Linked DNA regions of Homo sapiens. The protein of the gene in region 4 interacts with the protein of the main gene of each other region in a pairwise test. Each region holds a gene or a part of one and is shown on either strand. Other genes may lie near its edges.

Region 1 (7,025 bases), on a different chromosome or scaffold from region 4:
ACAGAGAAAACACAACAATTCTTTCTTTCCAAATGAGAATCTCTTTGGTTTCTTATTAGCCATGTGACTCTCTTGGCTCTCCTTTGCCATGACCATTTGGATCTTTTGGAGTATATAACTTTCTGTGCTTTTCTACTCTTAAAGGAAACTGGTGGTGACAAAAGAGAAAGAGAAGAAAGTGGGGCTGTATACGATCTATGTGAATCCTGCCAATACCCACCAGTTTGCAGTGGGTGGACGAGATCAGTTTGTAAGGTGAGTTTGTGGCTCTTTTGTGTCTTTGACAGTTTGTAAGACTGATGCATTGTATACTACCAGGTGCTCCTTTATGGAGAGTTACGAATTTTATAGGAATCCATTAACTATTATCTTGAATTTTTTACCGTTTTCCAAAAATCTTACACGCCTTTGGAGATGTTCTGTTCTCTAATGTAACAGTCTCTGAGGGGTGACTTTACATATTTTAGAGATTATCAAGTTTTAAAGAAGTTAGATGATGGTCAGGTGTAGTGGCTCACACCTGTAATCTCGACACTTTGGGAGGTGAGGCGGGTGGATCACCTAAGGACAGGAGTTTGGGACCAGCCTGGCCAACATGGCAAAACTCTGTCTCTAAAAAAAAAAATACAAAAATTAGCCAGGCATGGTGGTACATGCGTGTAGTCCCAGCTGCTCAAGAGGCTGAGGCAGGAGGATCACTTGAGCTCAGGAGTCAGAGGTTGCAATGAGCCAAGATTGTGCCACTGCACTCCAGCCTGAATGACAGAGCGAGACTCTGTCTCAAAAAAGAAAAGAAAAGAAGTTAGATGAATTGACCAAGGTCCTCACGTGGCAGCTAAGCCATAAATTTAGGTTTACCAGCAAGTACTATATTAGTAAATAATCTACCTTTTTCGTATGTAAATAAACGTGCACTAGAAATTTTAAATACTGGTTTTCAATTCAGAAATAGTTTGACTTGGGAGCACTTAGTGTGAACTGAGGGTTTTTTGGCTCTCACTGTCCTGAGCTACCACTTTTTTTTATCCATAGTGATATCTTTGTTACCGTGAACACCTTTTGTTAACACTGGCTCTTGAGACATGACCTAAGGAAAACAGACACTGTGGATTCAGTCTCCATATGTATTAGTTAATTTCCTCTGACCCTTAGTAATAAGCTGTATCCATCCCTATCCAGTTGGCCTATTTTAACTATGTTTCTTTGGGCTCATCAGTTTGAAAGGAGAGAGAGGGGCAAGATCACTAGAAAAATGAGTGACTTTTTGCTTTCCTAATGGTAAGTGAAAAGCATCATCTTCCTTTTGAAATGAGAGCACATTTTATAGCTATATTTCCAGATTCATTTTATTAATAAGAATCATGGGGAATAGGGTAAATTTTTAGAAAATACATGAGATGACTTTGCCTTGTTCAAGAATCCTGGACAAAACCTTGTTTCTCTCTTCTTCCCCTATTCCCATGCCTTCAAAATTCGTTTCCTCTAGTCACCAACAGTCCTTAAATGTGTAGCCATAGATTTTTTTTTTTAGACAGAGTTTTACTCTTATTACCCATGCTGGAGTGCAGTGACACAATCTTGGCTCACTGCAACCTCCGCTTCCCGGGTTCAAGCGATTCTCCTGCCTCAGCCTCCCGAGTAGCTGGGATTACAGGTGCACGCCACCACGCCTGGCTAATTTTTTGTATTTTCAGTAGAACCGAGGTCTCACCGTGTTAGCCAGGCTAGTCTCGAACTCCTGACCTCAGGTGATCTGCCCGCCTTGGCCTCCCAAAGTGCTGGGATTGCAGGCATGAGCCACTGTGCCTGGCCAATTTTTTTTATTTTTAAATAAGAAGCTGTTGATCAAAAAGGGTTGTAGTTTGTATAGATTTTCAGTTGCTACCTCCTCCAAGTTGAGCATTCACTGAAATTTTGAGTTGAGAGTTCCTACTTAGAGCTCCAGATTACTTGAAAAGTCTGTGTCTCTAACAAATTCCACCACTAGGACCAAGATGTTTGGAGGGGAATGTAGTAGTTTGCTGTATTGAGAACTGTATTCATATGTATGTATGTATTCATATGTATTCATATGATATGTATATCATATTGCCTTAACCCAAAGCTGATACTTTCCCAGGGTTAGAGTAAGGCTTAGAGTTTTAGCATTTCAACACAAGGAGAAATACTCAAATCTTCTGTGTCTTATCAGCCTCAATATTCCTCTATTGGCTATTTACTGGGCAGAAGTTATGTGAAGATTTTTGTTTTTTTTTTGAGACAGAGTCTCACTTTGTTGCCCAGGCTGGAGTGTAGTGGCTCGATCTCGGCTCACTGCAACCTCTGCCTCCTGGGTTCAAGTGATTCTCATGCCTCAGCCTCCCAAGTAGCTGGGATTACAGGCATGTGCCACTTTGCCTGGCTATTTTTGTATTTTTAGTAGAGATACGGTTTTGCCATGTTGGCCAGGCTGGTCTCGAACTGTCTTCAAGTGATCCACCCACCTCGGCCTCTCAAAGTGCTGGGATTACAGTCGTGAGCCACCGCGCCTGGCTATGTGAAGATTTTGAGGCACGCTGATCCTACACAAGCAGGTAGCCCTTTCAGCACTCCAGCTCTTCTCTGACATTAGGTTACACTCAACTTCTCTGGCACCTCTCCTGTGCAGCCAACTGAATGTTTTGAGGTTTCTCCTTTCTTATTCTTCCTTTGAAAGAACCCAAACAGCTCATCTTCTGGTATAAATTTGAAAACATTTTTGCTGAATATTATATATCATAACATCATTAACTTTCACTCCTAGCCTAAAGGAATTACTTCAAGGGAATATAGAGAAATAGCTTACTGATCCTCAAGGCTTTTGCATCATTAATACTGAATTTTAGTTTAGGGTTATTAAAAAGTATTTAAGGGAAGCTCTGGGGAGACATGCTTTTTGGCCTGTGGCCAAAAAAAAAAAAAAGGTAAGTAGAGGAGGTATAGGTGTGAGTCCCTACTACACCTGCTAAGCTAAGCTAATTCCTGCTTAGCTTAGTTTTAAGAATTTATAGGGGTAAAGAAAAAGAGAATATATCAGGTGAATCCTTTAGTGGTAAATTTGGCTGACATGAAAATTTATTGCTAAAGGATTAAGTATAGGCCCTGATTGATGAAGCACAGTCAGTAAATCATCTCTTCATTCCCCAGTTCTTAAGCCAACATCAGCAACACTGAGAGAACATTAGATTAAAGGCAGGTATAGAAGAGAGACTTAGGGTAACAAGTTAGTGGGTGCCTGAAGGCATGTGGGAAGAGATGTGGTAAAGGTGTGCACACTATTCCTTACGTGACTTAAAATGTCAAGGGGCTTGGTGTGGTGGCTCATGACTATAAAACTAGAGCACTTTGGAAGGCCAAAGCTGGAGGATAGCTTGAGGTCAGAAGTTCAAGGCCAACTTGGGCAATATAGCAAGACTGTGTCTCTACCAAAAAAAAAAAAAATTAAGAAAAAATTTTAATTTTTTAATTAATTAAATATCTCCAGGTGTGGTGGTATGCTCCTGTAGTCCCAACTACTTGGGAGGCAGAGGAGGATCTCTTGAGCCCAGGAGTTTGAGGCTACAGTGAGCTGTGATTACACCACTGCACTCCATCCTGGATGACAGAGTGAGACCCTGTCTCAAAAAAAATAACTAAAAGTAAAATATAAACTATCAAGGGCCTATCATATGTTCAGAAAGTGGTAGGAAAGTTTGTATTAATCTTTCTATGCTTACTGTCTATCACAGGGCTTGACAAACTGTAGTGCTTGTTTTTATAAATAAAGTTTTATTGGAACACAGCCATGGCCTTACTTTACATGTTGTTTATGACCACTTTCATGCTACAATGGCAGAATTCAATAGTTTTAATAGAGATTAGATGGTTTGCCAGTTTACCAGCTTAAAACATTTACTGTCTTGTCCTTTAAGAAAAAGTTTGCCAAACTCCGTTCTAGCATCATATGTAGAATATAGTAAGCTATTAATAAACACTTAGTTGGGGTGTAGTGGCTTATACCTGTAATCCCAGCACTTTGGGAGGCTGAGGCAGGAGAATCTTTTGAGGCCAGGAGTTTGAGACCAAGCTGGGCAGATGCTGTCTCCACCAAAAAATAAAAATATTAGCTCAGCATGGTGGTGTGTGCCTGTAGTCCCAGCTACGCGGCAGGTTGAGGCGGGAGGATCGTGTGAGCTGGGGATGTCAAGGCTTAAGTCATCAGTAACCTAACTGCCAAAGCAAACAAAGTACTTTTCAAGTCTTTTTCTCTACTCTTGACATTATTACTCCTTCCCTGAAGCACCTTCTCTCCTTGATGTCCAACCACTCCTCAGTGTTGTTCATGGGTGTGTCTTCCTTTCTCCACCCATTAAATGCTGATGTTCTCCAGTAGCTCAGTCTTCAGCTCTCATCTTACTCTATACCAGGGAATTTTAACTTGAAGTACAAATATTATGTGAACCTCCAGAAAGTATGCTTATGTGCATTTTTCTGGGGAGAAGGGACTAGAGTTTTCATTATATTCTGAAACAGGCCAGAGATTCTAAAGGGCGAAGGGAAAATCTTCTCTGTATTTTCCCTTGGAGATCTAATTCCATTACCAATGCTTTAACTACCACCTTTCACACGGATATATGACTTACATCTGTGTCTGCAGACCACACTTATTCTGAACTCTAGACTTACACCTACTTAACAAATGGATATAATTAACTGATGACTTCAGCCAGAGAAGTCTCAGTGGTGAGTTGAGAACCAAAACCAGATTAGGATGGACTGAGAAGTGAATAGGAAGTAAGAAAGTGGAAATATTGAATGTTGATTGTTCTTTTCAGTAGTGTAACTGTAAGGGGAAGGAGAAAAAAAGCAATAGTAGGAAAGGACAGTCAGCAGAAGGATTTTTAGAAAGTGGCCAGCTGGTGATGAGGAAGAGGTTGAGAAATTAGATAATCATCAAACAAGGTCCCTGGAAGGATGAAATGAAAAGCATTTTTCAAGAGATTGGCTCTGAGATTGGAGGAGACTGGGTGAGAACAGATACTGGATCTGTCTTGTTCCTCACTGTATTTCTAGCACCTAGCATAATATTTGACACATAATATGTGTGTCCTCATGAGTTTAAAGCTTGGATTAGAGAGAGGAAGGAAGGTGAAGGTGTAGTGTGCTTGATAAGAATGAGGAAAGGAGAGGGAGTCTTGAGGATATGGGTGGTAGTTTTTAATAATTATTGTGGGGTATGAGAGGGAGAACAGGCCAAATACAGTTTTAAGGAGGGATTACAGACCCATTGACTTACATTAAGCATGGTTTCTGCCCGTGAGTAACCTTTTTCGGTAGGTAATGTACATGTAAAAAGCTCCATACTAATGTTAGTTGTTTCAGTGAAAAGTAGCAGTATGTGATATAAAACTTGAGGAGAGAGATAAACCACTTCAAACTGACAGAATTGAGGATTGCCACTTAAAATGGGAAGTATGTGGATAAAGGATTTAAGGGTTTGCCTGGCCAACAGATGAAACTCTGTCTCTACTAAAAATACAAAAATTGGCCGGGCGTGGTGGTGTGTGCCCATAGTCCCAGCTATTTAGGAGGCTGAGGCAAGAGAATTGCTTGAACCCATGAGGCGGAGGTTGCAGTGAGCCGGGGTCATGCCACTGCACTACAGCCTGGGTGACAGAGCAGGACCCCATCTCAAACAAACAAAAGATTTAGGGTTTGGAAATGGATTGGAAAAGGGATGCCCTTTAAGGAAGAGCACAAACCAAAAGCTTGGTTTGGAAAATGTTGTTTATCTGCATCCAGCTGGCAGTTTCCTGCCACTACATCAAATTGCAGCTCTTCAAGGGTTTCGTTTGTACATTTTTACATTTTCATTGCTTTTCCAACTGTAGGATTTATGACCAGAGGAAAATTGATGAGAATGAGAACAATGGAGTACTCAAGAAGTTCTGTCCTCATCACCTGGTAAGATTCATGAAGGGCCAGTTGCTGCAGGCTTCCCTGACTCAACCCCAAGGCTGCACCTGAACTTGTTGGTATGGTGGGAAGAGCTTGGACTTTCAAGTCAGTCATCTGGATTTGAATCCTGGCTTTACCACTTACCAGCTTTGTGATCTTGGCAGTCACTTCACTTCTGATAGCCTCAGTTTTTTAATCGACAAAATAGAAATAAAAATAACTGCCTTGCACCTTGATGGTGAGGCCTAATGAGACAGTGTACATAAAATGGCTAGCACATGGATGACAACCAAAAGAAAGCCCCAAGATGCTACCCCCTGAGGTGGTCATGTTTCATCAGTTGTACTCTTGTCTCTGTCTGTCTTTCTCAAATCTCTGGGAGAAGATATAGGGGAGTTTGAAGGAAAAGCTGTTTCCTGAAGATGGTATAACAAATGGGGGGGTGGGGCATCAGTCAGTATCTGCTCCTTATTGCAGGTGAACAGTGAGTCCAAAGCAAACATCACCTGTCTTGTGTACAGCCACGACGGCACAGGTACGTGAGCAGGGCCCAGCTCCTAGGCTGGCATGCCCCCTCTGTCTAGGGAGCTGCTGAGCCAGTGAGGCATGTGCCCTCCAGTGCTCACCACTGTGCTATAGCTCCAAGTAGAGCAGCTGGGGAGTAACTGCTGATGGTGAGCACATAGCGGGAGGATACAGTAGATGACCCTTGGAGATGCCAGGTACCATTTGCAGAATGCTGCAGATGATATTTGGCAGGGCCTGTCCTGAAGCCCAGGTTGCTTGCCTGAGCAGGTTCTTATGCCTTTGACTCATTCCTGAGTTAATGGGTATGACCTTTTTGAGCATTCTGCTGCCCCTGGGTTGGCAGTGTGTTCTTAGTCTACCCTGTACAGTCGGACTTGCCTGGTGTTCCAAATAAGATGGGTGCTACACCTGGGTATTTGGAGGGGGCACTACTGGCAAGAAGCCCCACCCCAACCCCCACCTCCTGGTCCCTGCTTTTTTCAGCCTTTGCCTTCACTGCTATGTTCTTGTTCTTGGCAGAGCTCCTGGCCAGTTACAATGAT
Region 2 (7,625 bases), on a different chromosome or scaffold from region 4:
CCCTACTGGAGTAAGGCTCAGGTCTCAAGGTTGCCATCTTTCCCACACCAGTAGGATCAACTAGTCTGTCATTGGAATAGAATGAATTGATGCCAGCAGTAGTAGTCATCATGTGCAATCAGGCCTCAAGTTTTATTGTATCCTTTCACTCTCCCTCATTCTCCCCTCCCCCTCCTTTTCCCTCAGAATTGGGGGATGGAAGAAAAGAGAGCTTATATTTTATTGTCAATTTTCTAATCACATTCAGAGGAGCGAAGCTAATTAAGCCAATAACAATGTTTATGAATGTATCTTTTTTAAAAGGGAGATGACAATATATAGGAAAATTCCCACATGTAGGCTAATAGCAGCTTTTTCTTTTTCCTCCCATCCTCTATGATTATGTAAACATACAGAAGTCTAACACCCTACACAAGTGTATTGTGGGGTATGGGATTAAGTACCAAATTGCTGAACATATCACTAGTATTTTGGATTTGCTGAGTGCAGTCTTCCCATTAAAACTAAGTGTTCAGTAGGGAGGCGTGGTGGCTCACACCTATAATCCCACTACTTTGGGAGGCCGAGGTGGGTGGATCACTTGAGGTCAAAAGTTCGAGGCCAGCCTGGCCAATATGGTGAAACCCCGTCTCTACTAAAAACAAAAACAAAAACTAAGTGTTCAGTGAGATTGTAGCCTATGCTACAACAATAGTAATGCCAATTGTTTTAGAGAAAAGTAAATGAGAGGCTACCAGTTGTGTTTAGAGGAGGTCGACGTTTTATTTTAGACAAAATTCACAGGAAATCACAGTGGGAATGTGATAAGGGGTTTGAATGATTGATGGGGACAGGAAGAATTCATTTGAGAGACTAGAGATGAGTCAGTATTCTAGATCGTGAAGTAAAATAGTGAGTCATGTAGTGACTTAGCATGGGTTATCCTTAAATCCCAGTGTCTTAAGTGTATTTTTTATTCATACTGCATGTCTAAGGAGGGTTGGCAAGGAGTGCTCATAGACCCACAAGGAATCCAGGCTGAGTGTGGCACCATCAACATATATTTCCATGACCATAGTGGTGGTGGGGAATTGGAACATGGTAAATTACACATAGGAATAAAAAAAAAGAAACAACCAAGGTTAAATTTTTTTTTGACTGTGCCACAAAATTTATGAATTGAACTTGCCATGCATCACTAATAATTTTCAAATTGGTCTTTAGGTTTACATTAGCAGCTAATTTTTTGTGGTACACTTAAATGTAATTTATGATTGGCATCTGTATATAATTAAATGAAAAGCATTGCAAAGATTTCTATTTTGGTATTTCTCATGATCTTCAATTTTTTTTTAGGTGAATCTATTAGGTTTTCTAAAGATAACTATTTTTTTTTTTTTACAAAATATTGGCATTTTAATCTCTCTATAACTGGAGGGTGAATTATTTTTCACCAGAGTAAAACAGGTCCAAAGTCCCTTATCTAAATTCCTAATTTCAAAAATCTCTGAAAACAAAGTTTTTTCATAACTCATTTGGCAACAAACCCCACCTGAATTACATGAGGCTATTTGTGGTATTTATCGCACTTCAATGTGAATATGAATATATTTTGCCACAGATGTATCAATATATTTGATTCTAAACTGCTTCCTCAGACCCTCTTAATGTGTTACATAATGTAAAGTATATGCCCATATTTCCTTTCAAAAATCTGAAAAATTGTGAATATCAAACACATCTGTCTTAAAAGGTTTCAGAAAAGGGACAATAGACCTATATTTCCATTCTCTTAACAAGTTCACAAAGTGGTATTATGATCCAAATTTAATCTAAATAATTTCCAAAACAAAAATTTTCAGGTCCTTAGTTTTCTAAATTATTTTAATATTAAAAATATTCATTATTCATTTTAACCTGTAGTAACAACAGGAGATACTTTGAAATGCTTGATTTTATCAAGCCACTAGGTGGCATCTTTGTAAAAATAAAAGCACATCAAAAGAAATGTTTATTACATAAATAAATGCTGAGATGAATAAAGGTAGATGTTTCATGAGAAATACGAAGTCGTTTGGTGGAATAAATCCTGAGAAAATGCATAGATTTATCATGAAAAGGAAAATGGAAAATGGTATTGTAAAATTACTCTTTCACTTTTGGAATTGAGAAGCTTTTTCCTATTGGTTGTTTTCATTAAGTTTGAATATAAATTTATTATGTAACCAAACTACATTTGTGTGTATGTGCGTGTATGTGTGCGTGGACAGGATTTTGACATGCTAATAACTTTTCCATGCTCCACAGACTACCCAAGGAAGCCTAACTAAGTTAGGTTCCTATTTAAGATTAAATTGTATAAAGTCATCCTCACAGCAAACTACAAAAAAAAATGAATAGTGGCTATCAAGTCACATTTAACACTGTGAGACACTTAAGTTCTCTCCTACCAGTTTTTCTTCCCCCATCTCCTGACTCTATTCCTAAACCTACTGTTTGCATACCGTCTCTAACATTGAGAACAGTGAATGACAAATTTTAAAGAGGAGACCCAGCAAAGTGAATGTTTAAAACCAGTGGAATGTTTATTAGTAGCAGAATGTAAGATAAATTATGATTTTGGAGATGGGAGTGTATGAGTGTTTGTAAAATCTTATCTGCACACCTCCACACCTGGTCTACCCATCCAAGAAAGCCTAATTCTAGTGGTTACCTCTATGCCCATTTTTCCCCTTTACTTTTCATGAATGTGTGGAAATGATTAAAATGAATTTACTTTTACTGATCATTATTAAAACAAAGCCAATTTTATCTGAATATATATTTCACTATTCTAGTAAAAATATATTTTAAAATGGGATGACTGAAAAAAATGGCATTGGATATTACAAAGTTATTGGGGAGATGAGAGTGCAATTTCAGCAGAACAGTATAAAGAAATAAATGAAGACAATGAACATTTATGAATAAGGGAATGGACCTGTATTAATTTTATTAATCCTTTTAACATATCAAATCAAATTAAACAGTACTGTAATGGTTAAAAAATCTGGGACCTGGAGTTAGATTGCTTAGGTTTAATCCTGGTTCCCTCATTAAACTTTGTGTGCCTTAGTTTTCTCATTTACAAAATGGGTCTAATAGCAGTTTCTCCCTAATAAAATCGTTGTAAGGATTAAATTAGAAATCTATGTACGGTGCCTCATGACAATGAATACTTCATAAATGTTAGCTGCTATTATGAGATAGCAACATGTAGTTTGTTACTAAATTTCCAAGAGGAACATACTTGACTTGACCTCCAATACTATCCTGTGGTTCTTTAAAAGTTTTCTTATTCATTGATAGGCCGGGCGCGGTGGCTCACTCCTGTAATCCCCAACACTTTTGAAGGCGGATTGCTTGAGGCTAGGAGTTCCAGATCAGCCTGGCCAACATGGTGAAACCCCATCTCTACTAAAAATACCAAAATTAGCCGGGGGTGGTGGCGGGCGCCTGTAATCTCAGCTACTCAGGAGGCTGAGGCAGGAGAATCGCGGGAGCCAGGGAGGTAGAGGTTGCATTGAGCCGAGATCGAACCACTGCACTTCAACCTGGGCGACAGAGCAAGACTCTGTATACACTAGAAAAAAAAAAAAAAAAAAGAATTTGTTGTTAGACAAAATTTAGTTTATTAACTAATTTAGTGATTAACAAAAGTTCTTCTAAGCAGAATTATTTGATAGCTACTATCTCCCTTTTCTCTTTGGCTGCCAGGAAGCTGAGAGCCAAGTTGTTAGTTTAACAAAAGCAAGTAGGCACCTGACAGTTTCTCGCCTCTGACTTCATCGTGATGATTTCTCTGACTCGGATTTTTTTTATATCTGTAAAATTAAACTGCTGTCAGTGTTTGGTTTAGAGAGCTGTGCCGTTTCACAAGTGTAAAAGATCTTGGAGAGAAGTTAGTGTCCTGATTCACTTGGATCTAGGTAGCCAGTTGGTAACAGCCTCCGCCTCTGGCTCCTCCCCTTCTCCCTGCCGCGTCCCTCCTCCCCGCCCCTTCGCCTCTGGCCCCGCCCCTTCTCCCTGCCGCTTCCCTCCTCCACGCCCGCTCGCCTCTGACTCCTCCCCTTCTCCCTGACGCGTCCCTCTTCCTGTCTCTTCGCCTCTGGCTCCTCCCCTTTCTCCTGCCATGTTTCTTCTCCCCGCCCCCTCGCCTCTGGCTCCTCCCCCTTTTCCCTATCGCGTTCCTCCTTTGCAGCCCCCATCCCCCTCCTCTGGCTCCTCTTCTTCCCTACCGCGATCCTCCTTCCAGACCCCGGCCCCCAGCCCGCCTCTAGCTCCTTCCCTTATTTCCTGCCGCGCTCCTCCTTCCCGACACCGCCCCTCCGCCTCTGGCTACTCCTCTTCTCTCCTGCCGCACTCCTCCTTCCCGGCCCCACCTCCCCGCCTCTGGCTCATCCCCTTCTCTTCTGCCGCCCTCCTCCTTCCCGGCCCCGCCCCCAGTCTTTGGCTCCTCCCCCTACCCTGCCGCGCTCCTCCTTCCCGGCCCCTCCCCGCTGCCCTCTTCTGGCTCCTCCCCCCCACCCGCCTCTGGCTCCTCTCCTTCCCACCCCTGCCGTGCTCCGGCAGGAAGAGGTGGTGCCAGGGCCGTTGCTAGGATACGACCAACAGCTGAGAACGCGGCGAGTATGGAAGCTGCGTCTTAGGAGCCTGGGAAAGCACTTCGACGAGAATAGTTTGGTTTCGTACACAGGTAGGAGAACAGATTTTGACTGCGGCCTCCTGGTCCGACGCTTAGATCCAGCCTAGAGCCGGTGACAGCCGCGCTGGACTCTGGGTTCTGTGTGCTGGGCAGTGATTCCCACCTGAGCGCCTGGGGCTGCCTAGTCGGTCAGGAATGTTCCGACTTTACTTTAAAAACCGTGCGAAGCATCTCATCTTTCTCGGCTCCTTTTTTGGCTTCCCCTCTCTGATTTGGGACTTGAACCAGCAGCATCAAGCTAGGAGGTACACCTCACCTCACACCCTGGGTGCTTGTCACGGTAATTGCATAGAAGATGTGTGTATAACCCACACCTGGCACTAGAGACTCTTAGCCTTCCGTGGCCACCATTCTCATATTAAGTCGAGAGATTTTAGACTTTCCTCACCTGGCACTCTCACTCCTTCCTCTCCACCCTTGGTCTTTGCCTCTTAACAAACCTAAAAATTCAACAGATCTATTTGGTAGAAGGCAATACTGGATCCCTGCCTCACTAATTATACTACATTCTAAATGTGTTAAGCTTTAAATGGTAGGGAATGAAATGTAGGTGAAAAGGGAGACTTTTTTGTATGCAAACATGATAGAGGTTGCTTTTTAAACAATAAGATTTAAACATTTTCATTTGAATAGATAATACATAAAAAAATAGTTCGAATAGTAAAAAGAATGAAGAGTGAAAATCCTCCATCTACCCATTTCTCCCCATCTCCAGGCCACCTTCCACAGGTGTTTTAGACATACGCAAATATGTAGTTACACCTGTAACATTGTGCATACTCTTCTGTGATTGGCTTTTACACTTAAGACTGTGTGTCCAGTTGTTTTCTATCAATATTTACAGATCTGTCTCATTTATGCATTTATGGATGAATTTATGTATTTATGTTTCATTGTGAGAAGGTGTTTCGAAGCATGTCAGGAAATTTGGAAACTCTCATAAGCAAAAAGATTGATAAATGTCACTACCTAACAATCTAAAACTTTTATATAGTAAGAGAAAAACAACATCAAACATACAATGGGAAATATAAGGGCAACACACAACAAAGGGATATTTAATTATTAGGACTCATAAAACAATATGAGGATGTAAGGAAACAGTCAAGGGGAACTTCTTGGGGCTATAATAGAAAACAGTTTGATGGAATTTAACAAAATTAAGATCTGTATGCCCTTTGACTTGTCCATTCTAATTCTGGGAACTCATTTTCAGTATACTTACACATATATACAGAGATAGATGTATAAAATGTTTGTTGCAGCACTATTTTTAATAGTAAAAAACTAGAGGGGTCTGCATGGCGGGGCCTCGGAGCCAAGACGAGGTTGAGTAGACTCGTTTTGAATTTTCTCCCCTCTGCTCCGGCGGACTTCCCATGTCGCCTTGTGGGGCTATCGGCGGCGGCAGGACTGGGGGAGTCAGAGGTCTGGCAGCGCTGTCTGCGCAGACCTACCGGACGCTACCTCCCAACCCCCCTTTCTTCCTCCTGCCTCCTCCTCCTCCCGTCACCTCCTGACCCGCCGGAGCTCCGAGCAACTGCCGGCCTCCGCCCCCAGCCGCAGCCGGTCACTGGCGGCGCCTTCCGCGCCAAGCTTGGGGGCCTTTTCGGGGTCCTACATGGCACGGCTTCCGACCCCCGGCCCGGGACGGGGCTCGCAGGCCCCAGAGGGGCAGGCTGGAGAAGGAGGAGGTTAGGTGTCTTCAGGAGGGTTGCTGAGCCCAAGGACGCGCCATCGCCGCGGAGAAGGAGCCGGACCCCTTGGGCGGAGCGCCCAATGTGTGGTCCCTCACGCCGTCCCGCACCTTGCTTTTTAGGGTTCTTTTTCCGCTTTCTGAGCCCTTTTATACCTTACGTTTAGAAGGGGAAAATCATCCTCCCACACCTTCTCCCCGACTTTTTGCCTTTTTTGTCTTGAAGTTACCCAAAGGTCTGTGTATTGTTCTCAGTGGTCCCAAGAATTACTCGAATATAGTTGTTTTTCTGAGGGAGGATGGATGGAGATAACTATCCTGATCCCAGTGTCACTTTTTAAGGCATTCGCTTCAAGAGACAAGCAGTTTAGAATCAGGCAGAACTGGATTGCAAAATTTATGGGCAGACCGGTATGTGTGAAGGTGAAGACAAAGCTTTCCTTTTTTACGTTGTTTAAAGATGTCCTACTGTAAGGTAGACGCCTAATATTTAAATGAACGCCTAATATTTAAATAGAGAATGAGAAGAGATTTAAACAATTGGAAGAAAAAAATAATTTTTATTAGAAAGCAATGACAATAAAAGTAGGACTCTTTTCAGTTTACTCACCTTTGTAACTCCGAATCCGGGCCCTGGAACCAGAATTCCTGGGTTCAAATCCTGCCTCTGCTACTTGATTAACCTTTTTGTGCCACACTTTTATCAACTGTAAGAATTAACTGCGCCATCGGAAGCACTCAGTATATGTTAATTATTATCATCAAATAGTTACTAATTCCAGTTTAACTAGAAGCTTTGCCAGCGTGAATAGATAAGGGAGAATAGCCACATTGAGTGGAGGAATAAAATTAGAAAACCTCTGTGCTGAAGTCCCAGGAGATCACTTATTAGGCTTGAGCTTGCTAATGGAAGTGGTGATCGTTTAACCATGTGGTTATTGTAGTGGTGAAGATTTACACATTAAATAAGTCTTGGGCATCTGAAGCTTGAAACACTTTCTTAATGAAATCTTGCCGTTGAATCTGTACTTACTGATAATATGTCATTGGTTAAAATATATTTATAAAATGTATAATTGACCAGCAGGTTAATACATTTTTATCATTAATTTGAAATTTATCAAAATGAGAATATACAGTACCTGACGGTCAGTGGAGTTTGATCTTAATTTGATTTGAAAATTATGATCAGGAAAATAAATAACC
Region 3 (6,106 bases), on a different chromosome or scaffold from region 4:
ACCACACCCGGCTAATTTTTTGTATTTTTAGTAGAGATGGAGTTTCACCTTGTTAGCCAGGACGGTCTCAATCTCCTGACCTTGTGATCTGCCCGCCTTGGGCCTCCCAAAGTGCTGGGATTACAGGTGTGAGCCACTGCACCCGGCCACATTTTTTTTTTTTTAAGAGACAAGTTTTCGCTATGTCATCCAGGCTACAACATAGTTTCTATTTTTATTTCAATTGCTTTAGGGGTACCAGCGGTTTTTGGTTACAGGGGAGAACTGTATAGTGGTGAAGTTTGAAATCTTAGAGCGCCCATCACCCGAGTAGTGTACATTGTATGCAACATGCAGTTTTTTTTATCTGTCACCCCCCGCTTACCCTCCTCCTTCTGAGTCTCCAATGTCCATTATACCATTCTGTATGCCTTTGCATACCCACAGCTTAGTTTCCATTTATTTATTTTTATTTAATTTATTTTTTTTGAGACAGAGTCTCGCTCTGTTGCCCAGGCTGGAATGCAGTGGCGTGAACTCGGCTCACTGCAAGCTCCGACTCCTGGGTTCATGCCATTCTCCTGCCTCAGCCTCCCGAGTAGCTGGGACTACAGGTGCCGCCACCACGCCCAGCTAATTTTTTGTGTTTTTAGTAGAGACGGGTTTCACCGTGTTAGTCAGGATGGTCTCGATCTCCTGACCTCGTGATCCACCCGCCTCAGCCTCCCAAAGTGTTGGGATTACAGGAGTGAGCCACCGTGTCCCGCCAGCTTCCATTTATAAGTGAGAACATATGGTATTTGGCTTTCCATTCCTTAGTTACTTCACTTAGAATAATGACCTCCAGTTCCATCCAAAAGACATTATTTCACTCTTTTTTATGGCTGAGTAGTATTCCATGGTGTGTGTGTGTGTGTGTGTGTGTGTGTGTGTGTGTGTGTGCATGCACACACATAGCACATTCCCTCTATTCACTCATCAGTTGATGGGCACTTAGATTGGTTCCATATCTTTGCAATTGTGAACTGTGCTGCAATAAACTATGTATGCAGGTGTCTTTTTGATATAATAACTTATTTTCCTTTGGGTAGATATCCAGTAGTGAGGTTGCTGAATTGAATGTAGATCTCTGTTTAGTTATCTGATAAATCTTCATACAGTTTTCCATAGAGGTCCAGTCTACAATATAGTTTTAAAGGTAAATCACATTTAGGCTTGTAATGGAAGAGTCGGCTCTATGCCTTTCCCAAGCCAAGCACTTTTAGTTCTTTTTGTTATTTCTCCTGTCTTTATCTCTATGCTTAGATTTCTTGCTATTTCCTTTTTTTTCTTTTTTCTTTTCTTTTCTCCTTCTTCTTCTTTTTTTTAAAAGACAATTTCTTGCTCTGCTGTCCAGGCTGGAGTGCAGTGAGCTGAGGCTCACTGCAACCTCTGCCTCCCAGGCTCAAGTGATCCTCGTGCCTCAGCCACTCAAGTAGCTGGGATTACAGGTGCCTGCCACCATGCTCAGTTAATTTTTGTATTTTTAGTAGAGATGGGGTTTTACCATGTTGGCCAGGCTGGTCTTGAACTCCTGGCCTCAAGTGATCTGCCCACCTCAGCCTCCCAAAGTTCTGGGATTACAGGTGTGAGTCACTGTGCATTTCTTGATTTTTCTTTATGTAGTTGTTATCTGTGGATTTCTGCTATGAAATTAAGGCGTTAGTTTTTCTACCACCCTCCCCTCAATACACACATCCAGATACACAAACATACACTCCCTCCTTCCATTTTCAGTAAAGCTCAATTGCTATTTGGAATCAATATTCAGTGCTTTTGTTATGACTATGTAAATATTATGTTTAAATTTGTGCTACCTGGAGTTAGTAATTACTTTGTTTTTATCATTTGCTTAGTTTTCTAGGCATCACTCATTAATTCAATCGCAAAGCTTCCAGTGTAACTGAACATTTACTCAATATAGCCAAACATAGCTAATAATCAGTTGATTTCATTTTCCTCTGGAGACATCGCTCCTAGAGCACATCTTCTGATTTCAGGCTGGGTTGGTTACTTTCTTTACCCGGGGGTATAGTTGACATCCCAGGCCTTTCTCATCGTCCCTTTTCTGTGCTTAATCTCATTTATTGAATGCCATATTGCTCTCTTTCTTAGTTTAATTCTTTGTTTTGCTGAAGCACATCCTCCAGTAGCTTTCTAAGAAAGGGTATATGCAAGGTCAAATTTCTGAGACCTTGTATGATTGAAATGTCATTATTCTACCCTCCCAATTAATAATCATTCAGACCTATACATTTCTATATTAGACATCATTTTGAGGGCATTTATTGTCTTCTAGCTACCAGTATTGGTGTTTAGAAGTGTGATACCATTCTTGCTTCAGATCCGATGTATGTGATGTTTTTATTTGGTGGAAGCTCTTAGGATTGTCTTTTTATCCCTGCTAATGTGAATTTCATTATATGCCTTGATGTTAGCTGCCCTGTTTCATGTATTGGGCTGTGAATTGGTGGAAAGTTATGGTCTAGAGAATCATGTCCTTCAATTCTGAAGAGTCTCTTGATTTTTAAAAATCTTTCCCTTCTGGTCGGGCAGGGTGGCTCACACCTGTAATCCCAGCACTTTGGGAGGCTGAGGCGGTCACATCACCTGAGGTCAGGAGTTTGAGACCAGCCTGGCCGACATGGTGAAACCCTGTCTCTACTAAAAATACAAAAATTAGCTGGGTGTGGTGGTGGGTGCCTGTAATCTCAGTTACTTGGGAGGCTGAAGCAGGAGAATCACTTAAACCCGGGAGGCGGAGGTTGCAGTGAGCCAAGATGGCGCCATTGCACTCCAGCCTGGGCAACAAGAGCGAAACTCTGTCTCAAAAAAAAAAAAAAAAAAAAATAGAAAGAAAGGTTTTCCTCCTCAGAGCACTCCCTCAATAAACCATGTGTACAAGTATCCCCATCTCAGGCTCTACTTTTAGAAATTATGACCCATTGATATAGTCTGAATATTTGTCCAAATCTCAAGTTGAAATCTCAAATCCCAATGTTGGAGGTAGGGCCTGATGGGAGGTGTTTGGGTCATGGGGGTGGATATTTCATGGCTTGGTGCTGTCCTTGAAATAGTGAGTGAGTTCTCTCAAGATCTGGTTGTTTAAGTGTGTGGCAACTCCCCTAACCACCACTCTCTCCCTTGCTCTTCACCCTTTGCCTTCTGCCATGATTGGAAGTTTCCTGAGGTCTCCCCAAAAGCAGATGCTGGTACCCTACTTCCTGTACAGCCTGCAAAACTGCAAGCCAATTAAGCCTCTTTTCTTATAAATTACCCAGTCTCAGGTATTTCTTCATAGCAACGCAAGAATGGCCTAATACACCCACCATCTGGTGCAGTGCCTGGCACATAGGAAGCACTTAAATAAATGATTGTTGAATACAAAATAAACTCTGAGAAAATCACAGACAGAACTCTCCTATACATGCATACAGAGCACCTGGTGCATAGTAAATCTTTAAGGAGCTTTAGACTCTCCGATCCCCCCATGCCCTGCAATATGGAGTAGCCTCATCTTGGTGGACTCATCAGGACATGCTCCCCAGGTCTGTATGTCCAGGAATGCAATTGTGTGGATGCATCCAGGATTGATCAGGCTCAGGGAATTGCCAATCTTAAACCTTAATGTTCCTTTACAAGCACAATTGGAACTTAATGCCAAAAAAAAAAAAATTCTGGGATCTTCTGTTATACCCTATCCCATTACGGACAAATCTACTCGTAAAACCCAGCTGCTGGATAAGCAAGAACAGCCAGACCAAGGGCGATCAGTGCATGGTCATTAGGGCTGGTGACCCTCGTCTCTGGGCAAGGCCTGCTGGAGGTGGATATGCAGCCTGATTCTTGTTCTGTCTCCTCCTCTCCTAGGGGCTGTATGGCCACTGTCTCCCATTTTGCCACCCCTACCAGTTTTCCTTCAAAGTATGATATGTGGGCAAAGATTAAGTTCTCTTAATTATGACACATTTCCGCTCTTGCCTCTCAAGTCACTAAACTGAGATGTGCTGGACCCCTATGGCCACCACCCATTTACAGATGATCAGTGTAATCTGATATACTGATAATCCAAGTGACTAAGCCCTTCATTATATGTTCATTTTCCTTAACTCCATTCTCAGACTGTAACCTTAACCTCTAATAAGGGGGTTACTAGGTCATAGTCCTCTTAAGTTCATGTCCTCTACCTCATTACTGGAACCCCAGTATGCATAACACCCCCTATAAACTGTAGTGCTTAGAATACCTGAACAGCCCCCTCCTCTCTCACCCCCATTTAGCAGGTTATGCGGAAGCCCAGCCCCAGAAGCCTCAGGCAGTCCCCTGGCAGAGCCCATCTCTGCAATCTGGAACTTCAGGCCTGAAAAATCCCCTAGAAGGACCCACAGGGAAGACAGCTGGGGACAGAGATATTGAATGACTTCGCCCTGGACCTGCAGCTCTGCAAACTCACAGGAAGAAGAAAGCAGACCTCGCTCCCTTGGACAGATGCCCAAGTAGTAATGGGGTTAGAATGCCTTCCTGACAACTCAGATCCCCAAGGGAGGGCCCTAGGGCAGAGAATCAGCAAAGGCAAGAGGATGAGTCTTAGTTCTCAGAAATCCCTGACTTCCCAGCTAAGCCCCACCTAGGCCACCAGCTGCTTATGAGGTCAGAGCAGCAGCAGCAGCAGCCCCCTCCCTACCCCACGGCCCCACGTGGTAACAGGTCACAATGCCCCGGGTGCCCACTCCCAGAATGCTGACCAAAGTGGGAGGAGGTGAGGAGGGTTTGCTGGGTGGGTATGGGGGAGGGGGAGACTCTGCAGGAGCCTAATTCCCCACTCTGAGCTCACCCTTCTGTCTGCCCGGGCCCTACCCCTTCCCCTACTCTCACCCTTATAATCCTTTTCAGCACTAGGTCTTCCCGTCACCTCCACCTCTCTCCATGACCCGGCTCTGCTTACCCAGACCCGAAGCACGTGAGGATCCGATCCCAGTTCCTCCAAGGGGCCTGGGTGCTGGGGAGGGGTCAGGTAGTCCAGTGCGTCCACCTGTATCCACCTGGGGCCCTAGCTGGGCCCAGCTCCTGGACAGTGTCCTATGGCTGGGGGCACTAGGACTGACAATCCAGGCAGTCTTTTCCACCACTGGCCCAGCCCTGCTGCTGCTTCTGGTCAGCTTCCTCACCTTTGACCTGCTCCATAGGTAAGTGGGCAGCAGCCTGGCAGGTGGGCATTGTAGGCGGGCGGGCCAGTGGACAACTTCCCTAAGCCCAGTCACCACCCTCTCTCTCCACAGGCCCGCAGGTCACACTCTGCCACAGCGCAAACTTCTCACCAGGGGCCAGAGTCAGGGGGCCGGTGAAGGTCCTGGACAGCAGGAGGCTCTACTCCTGCAAATGGGTACAGTCTCAGGACAACTTAGCCTCCAGGACGCACTGCTGCTGCTGCTCATGGGGCTGGGCCCGCTCCTGAGAGCCTGTGGCATGCCCTTGACCCTGCTTGGCCTGGCTTTCTGCCTCCATCCTTGGGCCTGAGAGCCCCTCCCCACAACTCAGTGTCCTTCAAATATACAATGACCACCCTTCTTCATCAGGCCCCCTTTTCTCCTTCCTGGCTGGGCAGGTGGGATGATACCCCTTTCTTCCCAGCCTGAACCTCACAGTCCTATAATATAGGTATCAGATACCTGGATCTGAGTCTTTGGGCAGCAAGAGAAGGTAGGATACTAGCCAGGGAGCCCAAGGAAGAATGTGGCAGCCACCTCAGAGCCTGTGGATTGGGGGCAGCCACTCTGGCCTCCTCTGTGGCTCTAGAGAATGAAGGTCCAGACAGAAAGACTTGCGAGAGAGCAGTTTGGAAAGGGGTGGATATCAGCCAGCAGGGAAAGCAGGAAAGGGACAGGGATCCAGGGAGGGCTTCCCATGAGAAAGCATGAGAAACTACATCTGCGGGGCTCCGAGGCTCCCCTGCCAGCCTGGAGGGTCCGTGCAGAGGGACTTGGGTGGGCCTCACACCCTACAGTGACTCCTCTCTTGGCTGGACCCCACCCCAGCCCGGGTCACAAAGGGGCTCCTCTGGGGAGGGTGGGGGTAGATGAGAGTGGGG
Region 4 (7,407 bases):
AGTCACAACATAATCGCCGCTCCTTCTCCCTCAAATGTAAGCTCCGTGAGGGCAAAGATCTGTGTCTGCTTTGCTCAGTGTGGTTTTTCCAAAGCCTAGGACACCTGGCTGTCTGCTTTGCTCAGTGTGGTTTTCCCAGAGCCTGGCACACCTGGCTCATAGCAAACATTCCATCAGTATTTGTTGAATGAAAGAAATGATTCCTCAGGACTCTGGAGATGTCTGAGGAGCGTGGGCAGAGTGGGGTGCTCAGCCTCACCCCCAGATATTCTGAGGAGTTTCAGAGACAACGAAAGCCCTGGCTCCTCTCGTCCCCATGCCCTGCGTGAGCCCGGCCTGCACAGTCCTCCTGGAGCAGGCTCAGCCAGGAGCACCTCTGGAGGACAGGTCTGCAGAGCCTCCTGGCCAGAGCCTGGGGGTGATAGCAGCCCCTGGGCTCCAAACAGCCCAGCTGGAAGCGCCAGGCTGCCTGCCTGTCTCAGCCACCCACATCTGCTGCCCGGGCCTCCCTGTGCCTGCACGCGCGCGCACACACACACACAGGCCCACAGCCTGGAACCAAGGGAGCACCGTCTGCTCCCGCCCGGCCCTCAGCGCCCCAGGGTCAGGGAAGCTCTCCAACCTGCTCCATGAAAACAACAACGGCACAGAAAAGGCCGCCTGAGACCGGGGCTGGGCACGGCTTTGACAGGCAGGAGCATTATATAATTAACTGCCCCAGACTCCTCCTCCTCTTCGGGTAATAACGAACCCTGCTTTTCAGTTGCATAAGCCAAAATAATAATTACTCTCCAGCCCCCTGCCACTCCTGGATGTGGCCGTGGAGCAGGTGTTCCGAGCTTTCTTCATGAGACTCGGAGGCAGCGAGCGGGCGGGGAGGACTAGAGCACACGTACGCTCAGGATTTTTATTCTCGGCAGAAGCACAAGTCATTGCTGCGTCTCACTCCCTTCCCAGGCATCCATGCCTGAAACAGGCGAGCCGCCCGAGGGAGGCAGAGGACCCAGTGCCTCTGAGGATAAGCTCCCACATGGGAGTGGACTGGTCGGGGAAGCCAGTTTGTTTGGGGTCTGGCTTCCAGGAAAGGACCGGCTCCATGCGTGTCAGGTGCACTGAGGAGTGGATATCGGAGAGTCCAGGCAGGCGGGCAGCTGCAGAGCCGGCCAAGGTTCCCTGCACAGAAACCATCTTACAGCAGCAGCAGCAGCAGCAGCAGCAGCAGCAGCAGCAGCAGGCAGCTCCCTGGCTTCCGGCCCCGGCTCTGCCCCGAATGCGGTGGCATCTTAGAATGAAGGCACAGATCGATTCCCTCAACTAATGGTGAAAACGATGCAGCCACTGAAAGACGAGATTCCTGGGCTCTCACTGAGCAGATGGGCCTCCCTCCTCCCTCCAGCAGCCTGCTTCGACAGCGCTAGTCCGCGTCCAACCACCTAGAAGTGTACTGCCTGGCTGTTTTGGTTCGGGTTGGCATCCCCCGCCCCTAGCGCTCCCCATCACTCCCTTTCTCTCGGCTTGGGCAGATTCGGGGCTGAGGAAGGCCCTCGGGCGCCGCAGGAACACCAGAAGCGAAGCTGGGGCCTGATCGAAGGGCGGCCTCCAGGGTGGGGGGCAAAGCCAACAAGGGGAGGGGCCCTTCTCCCAGCCCCCTCTGCCCTTGCTGGGTTCCCCAGGGCCGCGGGCCCAGCCTGGCCCTTCCCGCAGGTCTCCGGCCTGCTGTGTCCGACGCACGGAGGCTCTGCTGGGCCCCGCCTGGCTCTGCCCCTGGAAAGCCCCCAACACCCTTCAGCTGGCACAGGGGCACTGTCCCCACCAGGCAGCGGGGCAACCTGTAGCCAGGAGCCGCCGTGGCTTCCAGGGAAGCCCGGGAAAGGCCCCTGGTGCCCACGGCCCAACCGGAGGACGCAGCTCAACTTCCCCAGAGATCCACAGAAGGGGCGCGATCGGAAGCACGTCCCTCCCGCCCCGGCCCGGCCCGGCCCGCGGCACCTACCTCCGTCCGAGTAGGTCTCGGTCCCGTAGCCGTCCTGCAGCCCGTTGCTCCAGGTCCCTTCGTATTTGGCCCCGTTGCCCGCGCACTCCCGCACCCCGTAGCGCCCCTTGAATCCGTGCGTCCACTCGCCCTTGTACACCCACTTCCCCTTGCTCTCCAGGCCGATGCCGTGGCGCTTGCCCTGCGCCCAGGTGCCCTGGTACGTGTTGCCGCTGGGCCAGGTGTAGACGCCCAGCACCTCGAAGCCGTGGCTCCACGAGCCGGTGTATTCGCCTTGGCCCTTGGGGCCGGTGCAGACGCCATGGCCGTGCGCCTTGCCGTCCTCCCAGCCTCCACAGTAGGACCCTCCGTCGTCAAAATTAAACCTGCCCCCACTGGACATGCATGTAACTCGGTTCCAGATCCCGCAAACGGTGAAAACGGACTCAGGCGATCGACACAGCAGAGTCGCGGCCGCCGGCGGCCCTGGGTCGCGAGCGTTTTCCGGAGGAGAGGAGGACGCGGCCCCGGAGCGCGGTCTCGGGCGCGGGCGGCCGCGGCGCCGGCTCCGGAGGAATTTCAGTCAATCGGGGGCGATTATTCCTTTTCGAGCTGCGCCGCGGAGCCTGACCAGCGTCTCGCGCTCCCGCTGGAGACAGGACCGGAGGGGAGGGGGAGGGGAGGAGGGAGGGAGGGGGCAGGAGCGGCGGCGGCGGGGCCCGCGGCTCCACCTCAGCGGCGAGAGGGCCCCTCGCCGGCAGCCCCGCGGGGAGGGCGCCGCGCCGAGGCCGGGCGGGGGGCAGCTCAGGCCCGGGCCGCGGCCCCCCACCTGCGGCTGCCGCGCTGCGGGCGCCCGAGGGCGGCGGCGGGGCCCGCGGGCGGCGGCGGCGGCACGGGCGGCGGCGCTGGCGGCTGCACCATATTGGGGGCCGCGGGCCGGGCGCGGGGCGGCGGCGGCAGCAGCAGCAGCAATGCGGCGGCTCGGGCGGCGGCGGCGGCGGTGGCGGCGGCGGCGTGCGCTCCGGGCCCGGCTCGCGCGCTCGGGCCGCGCGGCGCGCGCCCGCACCCCGCCCGCCCGCGCGCCCCCGCCCGCCCCCCGCCCCCCGCCCCCCGCCCCCGCCCCCGCCCCCGCCCCCGGAGCGCGGCGGTCCCAAGAGGGGCGCGGCCCAGCAGGCTAGGGCGCGGCGCGCGGGCGGGGACCCCGGGCGCCCCGCCCTCCGCGCCCCCAGCCCCGCGCTCCCCGCCCTGGGCTTCCCCGGGGCCCCCGCCGGACTGGAAACCGGGGTCCAGCCGGGGCGCCCCCGCCCCCTCCGGGAGTGGGATTTAAAGGCACAGGAACTGCGTCATGGGAAGGCGCGCAGCACTCAGGGCGCCCTCGGCCCCCTCCCGGGAGCTGGGCGGTGAGGCCTGCAGAGCAGGACCTGCCAGCTGAGCGCCCCTACCCTCGCCCCTGCCCGCCCCCGCGCCTCGCCCCTCCCGCCGGGCTCGGATCTGCCCCGCCTGCCCCTGACTCGACTGAGGCCCTTTGCAAACCACAGGTGGTTTTCTCCGGTGACAAACAATGCTTCCTTCTTCCTTCCGGGCAGCTTGGGTCCAAGAGTGGGGGGAGGGGGGCTTACCCCAGAAAACAGGGATTTGGCGAGTCCCTCTCCCCTATAAATTGAGTGAGAGTCGGGACACACGCGTGTATCTTGGAGCAAAGTCACCCGAATTCCGTGCGCCCTGCGCCCTGGCCAACAGGTAGCGCCCCCCCACTCGGGGAACGGTCGCGCTTTTGGGGAGCAAAGTGGGACCGCCATTCGGGCGTTTCTAGGTCTCTCTCCAGACATACTCTCACCCTCCGCCCCTCTTCCCACGCACAAGAGAGAGTCTGATTCTTGGATCCGAGCATCCTGGGATCCATTTAAAATGCATTTCCTGGACCATAAATCCTCAGGCAGAAGCCGGCGTCCCCAGCCCTCCTGAAATGCGTGCGGGAAATGGCAGCAGACCGGTGCAGTGGGCTGATGGGGGTGTGGAGGCTGCCCAGGGTCCTCGCTCCTGGGAGTGTGGGCCGGTGACCGCAGCGCGGTGAGCCAGAAACTGCAAGCCAGGCCTGGAGCCTGAGATTAGGACAGGAGAAGAGGTGCGATTCGGAGCCTCCAATCAGCCAGGAGCCCTGCTCAGATCTTCCCCTGTCCGAGAGAATCAGGATGGTCCCCACTCTTGGCTCACGGGGCTCTCAGAAAAATCAGCCCCTCCTGGGAGTCCCAGAGTTCAACCTCAGTCTCTTGCCTTGGGCACCAAAGCTCCCTCCCCAGAGTACCAGCAGCCAGGAGGACAGTCACCTCCTCATACACCCACTGTCAATGAGGAACATTTAGGGCGGTCGGCTTTGTTTTGTTTTGTGCAGTTACAGTGATTCATTGAGCTTTCTAGCGCTGTCTCCCTGTGCCCCTCTACAGAAGTTCTCTAAATGTCTGCGGTGGCATCATTGGACCAGCTACGTCTTGGACTTTATTGGAAGCTGCCAAATTGCTTTCCAAACACCTGGAGCAACTGACCTCTCACCCTTCAGTGTGCCTGGGTTTGTGGTTCTCTATTTCCTGGCCAGCACTGGTGTCCTCAAACTTCTGATTTTCTTTCCATTTATTTTACTTTGTTCATCTAAATGGGTATGAAATAATATCTCTGGGCTGTTTCATGTCCATGGAAATTTCTCTGTTGTAAATGTGTGGGCCAAAGGAACTGCACCTTGTCCTCAAGAGATTCGGGTCGAAACCTTGGCTCCGGGGCCCACCAGCAGTATGGCTTTGGGCAGTCACCTAATGTCCCTGAGCTCAGTTTTCTCATCTGTAAAATGGAGATGGCAGAGTTCCCATAGGGTTACCGTGGGAATTCAAAAGCTAGGCGCCCAGCACTCAGTAAGCGCTCGGGAAGTGGGAAGTAATGTTATTGGAAGCCAGCCCCCCAGGGAGGGTCATGGATTCCTGCATGGAGACACCCAGCCCTCTGCCTGTTGAAATAAACATTGCCACCACTCGTATGTTCTACTTTTCATTTCTTCCATTTTATTTCCAACCATTTTGCTGCTGAATCAGCAGCCCTCCTTCACACAAGCAGTGGATTGCAACTGAGATCCTATTGAAACACGGTGGTTGCTTCCAAGCAGTTACTGGTCAGCACCTTCCACCTTTGGCCAGTGTACACTCCGCTCCCTTGCAGTTCCAAGACCCCCACCTCCAACTGACCCTCTCTCATCTCCTGCAGTCAGTTACTCCAGCGGTGACAGGCTCTAGTCTCTGAAATGCAGATATTACAGGCATTTGTTCTGTGCAATTTGGAAATCACCGCCCTCCCGATAAAGTAGGGCTGGCAGTATTGATTTCACTTTGGAGGAAACTCTCCAAGCCTATAAACGTAGTACCACCCAGCCGTTTAAAAACAAAAACCAGGGAGAAGGGTAAAAAAGCTGTAACCCACATGTGAGCCAGGCACTAGGATGAAGACAGCACATTAGTCATCTCATGGACTCAGGTGATTTGGAATTACACTCTCCTTTTTAAAAGAATCACTTTTCCCCACCAACGTAAAGTGCCTTGCCAGAGGGAAAATAATGACTGGGCAGGATTCGAGCCCAAGTCTGCCTGGCCTTCCAGCCTGCACCCTTTCTGGCCTCCAGGCATGGGTCCTTGCTGTCTCTTTTGCCTGGTGCCTCTTCCCATGACAGTAGAGCTTTCTGGTCTCAGCTCCAGAGAGGCTTCCTGACTAGTGCAGAAAGAAAGCTCCCCCTGCATCCCCACAAAAGCCTATTAATCTCCTTCAAAGAACTGAGCCACGATCAACTTATCTGTGCTTGCCTTCTTGTCTTTGCCTGTGTTTACCATAACACTGTGAAATGTCCACAAGATCCCCCATTCCACGTGATCTTCTTCCAGTGTGGTGTTGACACCCCTCCTGTTGAGGGAGTGCTTTGGGGGAGCAAAGTGGGACTGCCATTTGGGCGTTTCTAGGTCTCTGTTGAGAGGTGGGCTCTGCATTCCCTTCCCCTGAATCTGGGCCAGTGTGTGATTATCACAGAAGTGACAGGATGTGACTTCAAAGGTCAGTTCATAAACAGCAACACAGCTTCTGCCTCATGCTCTTGGGGTGCTCAAGCTTGGAACCAAGTTGCCATGATGTAAGGAAGCTCAAGCAGCCCCTGGACGTGCCAACAAGGAGAGATACAGGGTCCTCCAACCCACAGCTCCAGCCAGACTCCCAGCCAGCAGCCAGCAGCATTTGACAGCCATAAAAGTGTACCATCTTGAAAGTAGACCCTCCAGACCCCAGGCAGGTCACCCCAGCTAAAGCCACATGCAGCTGAGACAAGCGTTCCCCATCACATCTTGTCAGAATTTCAATTTTCTGAAAAAAAAAAAAAAAAAAAAGAAGATTGTTGTTTTAAGCCAGGCATCACACAAACCATAACCCAGAGGCCAAATCTAGTCCACTGCCTATTTTCATAAACAGAATTTCACTGAAGCACAACCATGGCCATTCATTTGTGTGTCTAGAGTGGCTTTTACACTGCAACATAAGAGTGGAGTCGTTGTGACAGACACCATATAGCCTACAAAGCCTAAAATATTTACCATCTTGTTCTTTACAGAAAACGTTTACCACTTTTTGCTCACGGGGCTCTCAGGAAAATCAGCCCCTCCTGGGAGTCCCAGAGTTCAACCTCAATCTCTTGGCTTGAGCACCAAAGCCGCCTCCCCAGAGTACCAGCAGCCAGGAGGACAGTCACCTCCTCATACACCCACTGTCAATGAGGGACATTTAGGGCGGTTGGCTTTGTTTTGTTTTCTGCAGTTACAGTGATGCAGTGAGCTTTCTAGCACTGTCTGCCTGTGTATTAGTCTTCAAGGGCCGTCATAACAAAATACCGCAGACTGGGTGACTTCAACAACAGAAATGTCTTATTGTTTTTGAGGCTAAAAGTCCAAGATCAAGTTTCTGGCTGATTCAGTCCCTGGTGAGAGTTCTCTGCCCAGCTTGCAGATGGCCACCTTCCCACTGTGCCACGACCCAAGCCTCTCTCTTTTACTGGGCCCTACATCTCTGCTCTCAGCCAGCCTGCCTTATGTTTCTGCCCTCCATAGACCAGCTTTCTCTGCTGCAATCTGCTCTTCCCATCCTAACAGTCACTAACCTGGACTCTGGAGATCCTGATTCCTGAGTCTTAGGAGAGACATTCAGCCTGGGTCAGGTGTCTCTTTCTGACTCGATTAGCTGTGGTCAAGTAGTGGGGTCCAGGGTCCTCCCTTGTGATGGCAGAAAGATATGATCAGCATTTCTAGTACAAGTAGAGGAAGCAAACTGAGCCAAAAATTGGGATATGGGGTCTGTCGATAAGACATGATTTAACATTGAGAATGGAAGAGCTTTGAAAAAATGTTGAGCATGATTTTACT

Evidence for each region.
Region 1: the proteins of JPH3 (region 4) and DCAF8 interact in binary tests that used the Homo sapiens proteins (3 or more experiments, as listed by UniProt).
Region 2: the proteins of JPH3 (region 4) and IQUB interact in binary tests that used the Homo sapiens proteins (3 or more experiments, as listed by UniProt).
Region 3: the proteins of JPH3 (region 4) and C20orf141 interact in binary tests that used the Homo sapiens proteins (3 or more experiments, as listed by UniProt).

Annotation. Positions count from the first base shown.
Region 1 is NC_000001.11:160,224,527-160,231,551, reverse strand, and holds part of DCAF8 (DDB1- and CUL4-associated factor 8), read left to right. Parts: intron 1-144; coding exon 145-255; intron 256-5,888; coding exon 5,889-5,961; intron 5,962-6,432; coding exon 6,433-6,490; intron 6,491-7,002; coding exon 7,003-7,025. UniProt on the Homo sapiens protein: May function as a substrate receptor for CUL4-DDB1 E3 ubiquitin-protein ligase complex.
Region 2 is NC_000007.14:123,531,581-123,539,205, reverse strand, and holds the start of IQUB (IQ motif and ubiquitin-like domain-containing protein), read left to right. Parts: upstream 1-4,610; 5' UTR 4,611-4,714; intron 4,715-6,012; exon of another isoform or gene 6,013-6,842; intron 6,843-7,625. UniProt on the Homo sapiens protein: Adapter protein that anchors the radial spoke 1 (RS1) complex to the A microtubule of outer doublet microtubules in axonemes. The triple radial spokes (RS1, RS2 and RS3) are required to modulate beating of the sperm flagellum.
Region 3 is NC_000020.11:2,810,241-2,816,346, forward strand, and holds C20orf141 (uncharacterized protein C20orf141), read left to right. Parts: upstream 1-4,746; 5' UTR 4,747-4,777; exon of another isoform or gene 4,778-4,911; 5' UTR 4,912-4,944; coding exon 4,945-5,204; intron 5,205-5,297; coding exon 5,298-5,535; 3' UTR 5,536-5,590; downstream 5,591-6,106. Other genes in the region: TMEM239 (transmembrane protein 239), read left to right, coding at 6,095-6,106.
Region 4 is NC_000016.10:87,598,115-87,605,521, reverse strand, and holds the start of JPH3 (junctophilin-3), read right to left. Parts: upstream 3,015-7,407; 5' UTR 2,376-3,014; coding exon 1,994-2,375; intron 1,434-1,993; coding exon of another isoform or gene 1,363-1,433; exon of another isoform or gene 1,283-1,362; coding exon of another isoform or gene 1,104-1,282; exon of another isoform or gene 894-1,103; intron 1-893. UniProt on the Homo sapiens protein: Junctophilins contribute to the formation of junctional membrane complexes (JMCs) which link the plasma membrane with the endoplasmic or sarcoplasmic reticulum in excitable cells.